2 separate regions of the Homo sapiens genome follow, and region 1 is reported to be linked to region 2. The links are microRNA targets in miRTarBase. Many come from high-throughput screens and were not tested one by one. Region 2 holds a microRNA gene; the other region holds the end of a gene's coding sequence.
What was found. Region 2 holds the annotated microRNA hsa-miR-30a-5p (UGUAAACAUCCUCGACUGGAAG, at 3,238-3,259, opposite strand). A microRNA usually pairs through its seed, bases 2 to 8, with sites in the 3' UTR of a target mRNA and lowers its output. Matches are read on the target gene's strand: a 7mer-m8 pairs with bases 2 to 8, a 7mer-A1 pairs with bases 2 to 7 and ends in A, and an 8mer does both.

Region 1: miRTarBase lists AP2S1 as a target of hsa-miR-30a-5p. The part of its 3' UTR that is shown has no 7-base or 8-base seed match.

The regions. Positions count from the first base shown.
Region 1 is chr19:46,833,871-46,838,941 of GRCh38, forward strand. AP2S1 (adaptor related protein complex 2 subunit sigma 1) reads right to left here. Exons shown (of 5, transcript NM_004069.6): 4 at 4,870-4,929; 5 at 4,297-4,678. The coding sequence ends at 4,577. Among named protein-coding and RNA genes, the nearest start is that of SNAR-E, 5.7 kb to the left of the region's middle. RefSeq lists an enhancer at 4,339-4,839.
Region 2 is chr6:71,400,358-71,405,428 of GRCh38, forward strand. It overlaps MIR30A (microRNA 30a), which reads right to left and starts at 3,264; the gene lies at 3,194-3,264. RefSeq lists an enhancer at 1,732-2,260.

The DNA.
Region 1 (5,071 bases), not on the chromosome of region 2:
TGGGCACCTGTAGTCCCAGCTACTCGGGAGGCTGAGGCAGAAGAATGGCGTGAACCCGGGAGGCAGAGCTTGCAGTGAGCCGAGATTGTGCCACTGCACTCCAGCCTGGGCGACAGAGCAAGATTCTGTCTCAAAAAAAAAAAAAATTAAAATTAAAGTTTTTAAAAAAATTGGCCAGGTGTGGTGATGCACACCTGTAGTACAAGATACTCGGGAGGCTGAGGGAGGAGGATCACTGGAGCCCAAGAAGTCGAGGCTGCAATGAGCTATGATCACACCACTGTCTGGCAGACAGAGTGAGACCCTGTCTTCTAAAAACAAAACAAAACAAGAAAGAACCCCAGTACCCTTTAGCTATCATCTCCCTCCCATTTCCCCTGGGTTCTGACAACCCGTCATCATTTTCTGTCTCTCTGCACTTGCCTTTTCTGCATGTTTCCTATAATGGATCATTCAATATCCGGCCTTTTGTGTCTGGCTTCTTTCACTTAGCTTAATGTTTTCCAGCTTCATCCATGTCAAGTGTTACAGTAGCTAGTTAGGCACATTTTTTTTTTCTTTTTTTTTGACGAAGTTTCACTCTTGTTACCCAGGCTGGAGTGCAATGGCGTGATCTCAGCTCACTGCAACCTCCACCCTCCAGGTTCCAGCAATTCTGCTGCCTCAGCCTCCCAAGTAGCTGGGATTACAGGCATGCGCCACCACGCCCGGATACTTTTGTATTTTTAGTAGAGACGGGGTTTCACCACGTTGGCCAAACTCCTGACCTCAGGTGATCCGCCTGCCTCGGCCTCCAAAAGTGCTGGGATTACAGGCACGAGCCACTGCACCCAAGCTCTGCTCCCAATTCTTGACCTCTTACATCAGATTTGGCACAAAACTGTCCCATGCCCCACATATTAAATGATCCTATTTATATGAACTGCCCAGGCAAATCCAATAAGACACAAAGTGGAGTAGTGGTTGCCAGGTGCTAGGGGAATTGAGGGGTGATGGCTGAAGGATAAGGTTTCTTTTTGGGGTGATAAAAATATTCTAAAATGGGTTGTGATGATAGTTACCCAACTCTGTGAATATAACAAAAACCACTGAATTGTAATACCATAAATGGGTGAATTGTATGTATCCCAAAAAAGCTGTTACCACCATCCCCCAGGTTCTCCAAAATGAAACATCCTTCCCATAGCGGGCATCAGACACAGAATAAACCCGAGCAGGCCCTGTGTGATCGGACTTCCCCTCCCATCCCCAGTCCCACTCTGAACCATCTCGAACCCCCTTCTGCTTACTCTGTTCCAGCCACACTGGCCTTCTTGCAAGTTCTGCCTCAGGGCCTTTGCACTTGCTGTTCCATCGGCTAGAATCCTCTCTCTGGTTAACTCGGCTAGCAGAGTGTGATTTTGACCTTAACAAAACCAATCTCCCCTCCCCTCCCCTCCCCTCTCCTTTCCTTTCCTTTCTTCTTTTGAGACAGGTTTCACCATGTTGGACAGACTGGTCTTGAACACCTGGGCTCAAGTGATCCGTCCACCTCGTTCTCCCAAAGTGTTGGGATTACAGGTGTGAACCATCATGCTCGGCCCAAATTCTTTTCTTTTCTTTTTTTTTTTTTTTTTGGGACAAAAAGAGTCTCACTCTGTCGCCCAGACTGGAGTACAGTGGCACTATCTCGGCTCACTGCAACCCAGCCTCCTGGGTTCAAGTGATTCTCATGCCTCAGCCTCCTGAGTAGCTGGGATTATCGGTGCCCAACACCACACTTGGCTAATTTTTGTACTTTTAGTAGAGATGGGGTTTTGTCACGTTGGCTAGGCTGGTCTTGAACTCCTGATCTCAAGTGATCTGCCACCTTGGCCTCCTAAAATGCTGGGATTATAGATGTGAGCCACTGCGCCCAGCCCCCAGTTCTTACATAGACACCATATAAGTGGCAGGCAGAATAATAGCACGCCCTAAATGTCCACATCCTCATCTCCGGAACCTGTAGATGTGTTGTCTTACACAGTAAAAGGGACTTTACAGTTGTGATTACAGTCCGGGTCTTGATATGGGGAGATGATCCTAGATTATCCAGGTGGGACGAATGTAACCACAGGTGTCCTTATCAGTAAAAGCAAGCGGCAGGAAAATCAGTCAGAGCCAGAGAGAGAGAGACTGGAAGATGCTCCGCAGCTGGCTTGAAGGATGAAGGATAGGGTTACATGCCAAGAACAGGAGGCAACTTCTAGAGGCTGGAAAAGGCAGGGAAGGATTCTCTCCTAGATGGTCCAGACAGCTCTGCTGACAACTTGATTTTAGCCCACTGAAACCCATTTCAGATTTCATTGAGAATAAAATTGTGTTGTTTTAAGCCGCTAAGTTTGTGATAATTTGTTACAGCAGCAATAAAAAACTAACATGCTAGTTTATATTTATAAAAAGAGGCTGAGCACCATGGTTCAGGCTTGCAATCCCAGCAATTTGGAGGCTGAGGCGGGCGGACCATTTGAGCTCAGGAGTTCGAGACCAGCCTGGCCAACATGGTGAAACCCCGTCTCTACTAAAAATACAAAAATTAGCCGGGCATGGTGGCAGGCGCCTGTAGTCCCAGTTACTCGGGAGGCTGAGGCAGGAGAATCACTTGAGCCTGGGAGGTAGAGGTGGCAGTGAGCCAAGATTGTGCCATTGCACTCCAGCCTGGGGAGTGACAGAATAAGACCCTGTCAAAAAGAAAGGAAGGAAGGAAGGAAAGAAACTGACAGGGGCCAGGGTGTTCTCAGCTTGCGAAGGATGCCAGGCATAGGTGTGGCCAGCAGCCCCCACACTCTGCTCTCAGTGGGCATCGGGGGCCCCTTAACTTCAGAGGGCCCTAGAAACACTCAGGGGTGGCTTCTATCATCACAATGGCCAGAAGGCCACTTCTGGCACTTGGTGGGTGGAAGTCAAAAGTCCATCCACTTCTGGAGCAGCCTCACAATGAGGGATTGTCCTGGCCCAAATGCCAGCAGTGCTGTTGCCAAGAAACACAAATCATCAAGCCCAGTGCCTACATTTCCAACAACCACCGGGGCGAGCAGATAAAAATGAGGGTTCTGGAGCTACCCACCTGGCTTCAAAACTGGCTCAAAACAAACCTGGCTTGGCTACTGACTAGCTACAGACCTTGGTCAAGTCGTCTTTTTTTTTTAGATGGAGTCTCGCTCTGTTGCCCAGGCTGGAATGCAGTGGCACAATCTCGGCTCACTGCAACCTCTGCCTCCCGGGTTCAAGCAATTCTCCTGCCTCAGCCTCCTGAGTAGCTGGGATTACAGGTGCATGCCACCATGCCCAGCTAATTTTTATATTTTTAGTAGAGACAGGGTTTCACCATGTTGGCCAGGATGGTCTCAATCTCTTGACCCGCCTCAGCCTCCCAAAGTGCTGGGATTACAGGCGTGAGCCGCTGCGCCCAGCCTGGTCAAGTCTTTTAATGTTCCTGAAACATTCCTGGAACAATGTTCTCACTTGGAAAATGGGGATAATAACAGTCCTGTCCTTGGCCGGATAGAGTGGCTCACGCCTGTAATCCCAGAACTCTGGGAGGCCAAGGCAGGAAGATCACTTGAGCCAGGAGATCACTCCAGCCTGGGCAACAGAGCAAGACTCCATCTCAAAAAAAAAAAACTTAGCTGGGCATGGTGGCACGCACCTGTAATCTCAGCTACTTTGGAGGCTGAGGCAGGAGAATCACTTGAAACTGGGAGGCAGAGGTTGCAGTGAGCCGAGCTAGCGCTATTGCACTCCAGCCTGGGCAAAAAGAGCGAAACTCCATCTCAAAAAAAAAAAAAAAAATTAACCAGGTATGGTGGCACACATCTGTAGTCCCAGCTACTTGGGAGGCTGAGGTGGGAGGATCAACTGAGCCCAGGAGGTCAAGGCGGCAGTGAGCCATGATCCTGCCACTGCACTCCAGCCTGGGCAATAGAGTGAGACCATGTCTCAAAAAAAAAAAAAATAGTCCCAGACTTATAATCTAGTGAGCTTTAAGTAAGGTAAGACATGTCAATTGCTTAGAACAATGCCTGGGAGAGGGTGAGTGCCCTTCAGCATTAGCTGAGTATTGTTATTTTAGTAGCAAGTGCCTGGAATCTAAACCCATCACCCCTTCCAGCCTGGGGGCCCTTGGTGAGCAGGAGCAGGTCTGAAGAGCACCTGGGTGTCTCACCTTGCTCAGCACAATGAGGGGCGTTTGTTGACTGACTGACTGATGGACTGAAGGCAAGGCATCCTAGGTATCTGGTTCCCAGGGGAGACAGGCAAGGGCTCAAAGACGGCAAGGCCAGGCAGGACCACAGGTTTATTGGGGACTCCACGCACAGACGCTTATGGCATCACACGACAACGGCACGGTTACTCGGGACACACACGGTGGCCTCTGCCCACAGCCAGGGCCCAGAGGCAGTGGGGTGCAGTCTCCTCCCTTGTGGCCCAGACCCAGCTGGGTCCCTTCCTCCTAGGCAGCTGAGGGAAGGACTGCTGGGTTGGCCACGGGCCTGGGAAGGGGAAGCGAGCAGGCGAGTCCAGGAGGGGCCGGGGCCGGGGTGGGGCTCGCCTGCCCTCACTCCAGGGACTGTAGCATCAGCAGCTGTTTCAGCACCTTCGTCTGGCTGGTCTCTCGGATTTCGCCAGCCAGGAACATCTCGTCCACGACCGTGTAAACCTGTGTGAGGGGAGACCCTGGGGTGAGACGAGGCCCCCCAGGATGCTGGCCCGGACCCTGGAAGCTGGGGCTCTGATGCCCCTCGAGCTGGGACACAGACCTCAGCAGAGGCTCCGGGTGGCTAGTGCACCACGGGTCCCCCCCGTCCCCCTCCTCTGGCTCCTTCAGCCTCCTCTTCACCAGGAGCCTACCTTGTAGAAGTTGAACACCAGGTCCAGTTCACAGACATTGTGGAAATATTCGTTTAAGACCTGGGAGAGGAAGGCAGAGATGGTAAGAGATGGGCAGGGAGAGAGCCACACACGCACAGAGATGGGAACAAGGTCATCAGAAAGAGACAGCAAAAAAAGAGACCAAGGGGGAGGCAGGGGAGAGAGAGAGACAGTGACAGGG
Region 2 (5,071 bases):
AGGAAAAATAATAATCATAAAAACCCTCAATCTCAAATGATTTAACAGCTTCATTATGTATTTGTTTGGCAGTGCACAAAAACAACTACAGTACGCACTAGGAAATTTATCTTCCATATCTATACAGAATACTTCTTATGATATAGAACCACATGAAGAAAGTCTTCTGTATTATTTTAGTGAGATTGTTAAGACAGTTCACTAAGCACCACCTTTAAAATTTCAGTAAGGTGCTTCCAAAATTAAGATAAACAATTAACTTCCTGTTACTCTTCTGATACAGAAAAATAACGGGCAATTTTGAATTAGTGTTATTAAGCTACCAAAAATTGATACCACTCAGGAAAGATTGTTTTCCCCTTGAATGGTAATGTTTAGCTAAAATTCTAGTAAAAGAAAACAGAGCAATTCTGAGAGGAATCTAAATAGAAAGGGGTTTCTCAGGTCTAGGTAACTAATTCCCATGCAGACGGCCTTCAAATGCATTTCCCTTGCCTCCACAGTCCTCTGGTCTGGTTTTAGTTATTCTGTAGTAGAGGAAAGGCTTCATACATGTGTAATATTTATAGACAACATCATTGTAAAATGGAGTGCAAGTTCAAATCAGAGTTTTAAGGTCAGGAAAAATAAGTATCACTTAAATCATTCACCACTGACACTTTCAGAAGCTCTTAACTTCCTTTAGAAATCTCCCTTTCAAGCATGTGCCAATTTTTATTTTGGCAAATCATGAATAAAAACTAAATGTATAATACTTTTGATGATTACTCAGTGTGGTGCTATTTTTTAAACATTACTAACTTTATAGCAACACTCACATTACATTTAACTAACACATTTTGACAGTGTTTTATTTTCAGTAACTGACTTACTACAGTCCATTTTAAGAATTTTATGTTTTAGTTTATAGATATTTTATTATGCTGATATGTGAAATTTTAAAAATTATAGTAAGAAAAAAAACACATGAAAGCAATTAGTAAGGGTTTCTAATTTATGTTAAATATTAGTTTATCTTACCTAAGCACATGCATGGTAACTCTGTCCACGTAGTGGTAGAAACATAATACTGTAAACTTTAGAAGTTATTTTTTTTGTAAAATAAAAAATTGCATCCAGATCTTATTTCAATTATGAATAACACACTGTTGATGTTATTTTATTTATTTATATGTATATCTATATATATATATAGATATATTTTTTTTGAGATGGTAGGCTCGCTCTGTCGCCCAGGCTGGAGTTCAGTGGCACCATTTTGGCTCACCACAACCTCTCCCTCTCAGGTTCAAGCAATTCTCAGCCACCTCAGTAGCTGGGATTACAGGCACGTGCCACCACACCCAGCTAATTTTTGTATTTTTAATGGAGACAGGGTTTCACCATGTTGTTCAGATTGATCTCAAACTCCTGACCTCAAGTGATCCACCTGCCTCAGCCTCCTAAAGTGCTGGGATTACAGGCGTAAGCCACCGTGCCTGGACTGTTGATGTTACTTTAAAATAGTAGTTTACATTATTACTGTGGAAATGTGGGGCACAAGACATAAGAAATACTAGGTATTAATTTTGAAACTACCCGGAATGGCTTATGGAGGTTTGTATTTGTTGATTTAAAAATAATTAAAAATGCTGTAATTTTTACAAATTAAAAAGTTCCCATAACTAATTATTTACATGAACAAAATGAACAGATAAAAATGAAAAATGGAAAATTTAGGGGCAGTAAGGTAAGGAAGAGGATATAAAATAACATAGGAAGAGAACCTAAAGAAAGTGAAGGTCAAAGATTTAGGAAAAGTTTAACCATTTCTTCAAACCTATAGTCATTTACCTAGGAAATACGGTCGGGTGACCCCAGAAAAACAGCCGAGTTATTTGCTCCAGGGGTTTTCAGCTTACCAATTAAAATAGACCACATTCTCAGTTCCAGACCCAGGGCCTGGCAGAGGCCTCTCCAAGCCCCTTGCATTTCAGTGGCAGTTGATGAACCTCTCATGGCCCAGCATGACTAATAGAGTTTTGATAGCTTTATGTATGAGGGAAACTTAAAGACATTTCTAACACATATTTCTCTCCATCCCAGGTATTAGAAGAAATGCTACTATTTTAAATAGTGGTATGATCATACTGTTTTAGTATCACTTCTTTATCATCATCATCAATGGGTATTAAACAGGGAAAAGAAACTCTTTTACATTAATGGAAACACTATATATTTATAAAATACTGTGTTTTAGAGGACAAAAGATATCACTTTCATATCTTTTTAAAGTGTCTAGTTTCTATATAAGTGTATCCTTAATATTTCTATTATACACTTAAATATTTCTCTTATACACTTAAATATTTCTATTTAAGTGTATAATATTAAAAATATCCGCCATAAGAAAAATACGCATTTACAAAAAAGGAAAATTAGAAATTATGTCCATCACAGAAATCTTCTACAGGATTCTGAATCTTAAAATTGTCTTCATATATTTAGGATAGAATTTGATGTATTTATTATTTTTAAGAGATATGAGTTATTGCATAAAGCTAAGTTAAAAGTTCAACCAAATGGAAACAGTATCCACAAATTCCTAAAATACTATTCTAATCATCTGAAACAAGAATAGGTTTTTCAAATAATAGAGTTAGTTGAATCAGTATTTGTTTGTTTTAGACACTTTATTAAGCTGAGAGCTGCTACTTTATTACTTAAACACTAAGCCTATAAGGAAATAAAAGGGGTTTAATCCAAGTAATGTGAAAATAACTAACCCTTCATCTTACTTTTTTCCCCCAAATAATTGTGGTTTCATTAATGGATTTTTTTTTTGTGAATGGGTCTAAAAAACACCTATTTTGAAACTGCAGAAAGGGCAGGACAAAACAAATCACTTCATAGATTTTTCTGGGAAATATTGCCCTACTACGCTTTTAAAAAAAATAAAAATACTGTAACACATTTCCTCATTTCTCTTACGAATACTTTCTTTTTGATATTGCAAATTCTATGCATACACAGAGCACCTCCTCAATGCCCTGCTGAAGCCCTCTAAAAATGTACAGACATGGTTTTAAAGTGATTTAATTTATACCATTTTAATTCAGCTTTGTAAAAATGTATCAAAGAGATAGCAAGGTATTCAGTTTTAGTAAACAAGATAATTGCTCCTAAAGTAGCCCCTTGAAGTCCGAGGCAGTAGGCAGCTGCAAACATCCGACTGAAAGCCCATCTGTGGCTTCACAGCTTCCAGTCGAGGATGTTTACAGTCGCTCACTGTCAACAGCAATATACCTTCTTTAGCCTTCTGTTGGGTTAACCTGAAGAAGTAATCCCAGCAAGTGTTTCCAAGATGTGCAGGCAACGATTCTGTAAAGTACTGAAGCCTCATTCAAACAGCAATATTCTAGAAAATGTCTCAAATTCAAAACAAATAAGAAGGCTCATGGATGTCTATTATTCATCACCGAGCTTCTAGTTTCTATAAAATTTTGTGATATACTAAAACAACATATATAAATGGTTTCATTCATTATTGTTAGCCACAAGAAGTAAATAGGCAAGTGGCCAGGTTACTTAATATGATTTCAACATGCATTATGTAATTACAATCCTTTAAGCAAAAGTGACCAAACACAGAAACTAAATTATCTTAACAGCGTAAAGCGTACATTTAACATCAAATACTGCAGTTGAGTGAACTTAGACTACCGTGAAAATATAAAAGGTCTACTTGGAAAGTTATAAACTCTGACAAAAAAAAAAAAGACTTACATGCTGCTTTTATAGATCACTTTTGCTCTAAAGTCTGCTCCCAGAGAGGACTTGTACAGTCAGCTGATTTTTGAAAGAGTAAGCAACAATCAGGAGAAAAACAGAAAAGAATAACGAGGTATAACACAGGCATATATCAGTATGTGGATCAAAGTTTCCCACTGGAAAAACACAGAACCTATCACTCACAACAGTGACGCACATTAACTCCAAATTTGAATGTTTTGAATTCCACTCCCATTCTCTTATGAAAATAAATGAGGAAAACTGAAGGTTAAGCTCTATCAGTCACTACTTTCCTGAAGTAATTCAAAACCATTCTGAATCTAGTGAAAGATTAAGTTGATACAGAAAAGTGGGTGTGCCTTTCCCTGAGATTTGTTTTTAGATGAAGTTACCGTAAGGTTCTTAAATTGTGTAAGTCTTAGTAGTTTGTGATCTCAAACCCGAAACAAAAATAAAATCCACACAAAAAGCATCATGTTTACTGAAACTAACAAATATGAAGAACTCCATAAATTACTTTCTCAAAGCAAAGGGTAACTCTATCCCATTAAGGTTAAAAAAGTTAATCTTTGAGTCAGCAGGTGAAAACAAGCTGAATTATGTTGTGGCCTTTTTCTTTATTAACTAAGGACTTTGAACTATTAAAACTTCCTAGGGAACCAGTTTTCTCAATGGGTCAAGTCACACAGGGGAACAAAGCAAACTTTATCAGTGCTGTGCAATTCTACATTCCAGAAATTCTTAGTACTTGGCATTCATATACCACTGCTGACTAGAGCTTGAGTCAATCCACCAAACTCAGCTATGGCTACCAACCTTGTGAACTTCTCACCAAGATACCCACTTCTTTTAAGTTAGCCACGACTAGACAGGCAGAGTACTCTTTAATTAAAATAGATAAATACCAAGGCTTACACCCTGGGGGGACATTGTATATCAGTGACTCTTTACAAAAAGAAAATATTTTTACCACCATAAATTTTTCTCAAAGTGACAGGTCCCCTACTTGCCTTGGAATCTTACCACTTTTAAATAACTGTAAATTATTAAATAACATGTAAAACAGTGACAAGTAAATACTAAGCAAACAACCTCAAATAACAAATAATTACTTAAATAATTCTATTGCCACCCTCTCACTTTGAGAATTGCTGATCCAAGTGGGACCTATACTACTCAGTAACCAAAAAAACAAGCATGTAGTTTAAGTAATAATGAGTCTCAGTTAAACTGGTAAAATTGTCTGGCATCTGACTGGAATAAATCTGCTTTAGCTTTCACATAGACTTCACCTAGCTCA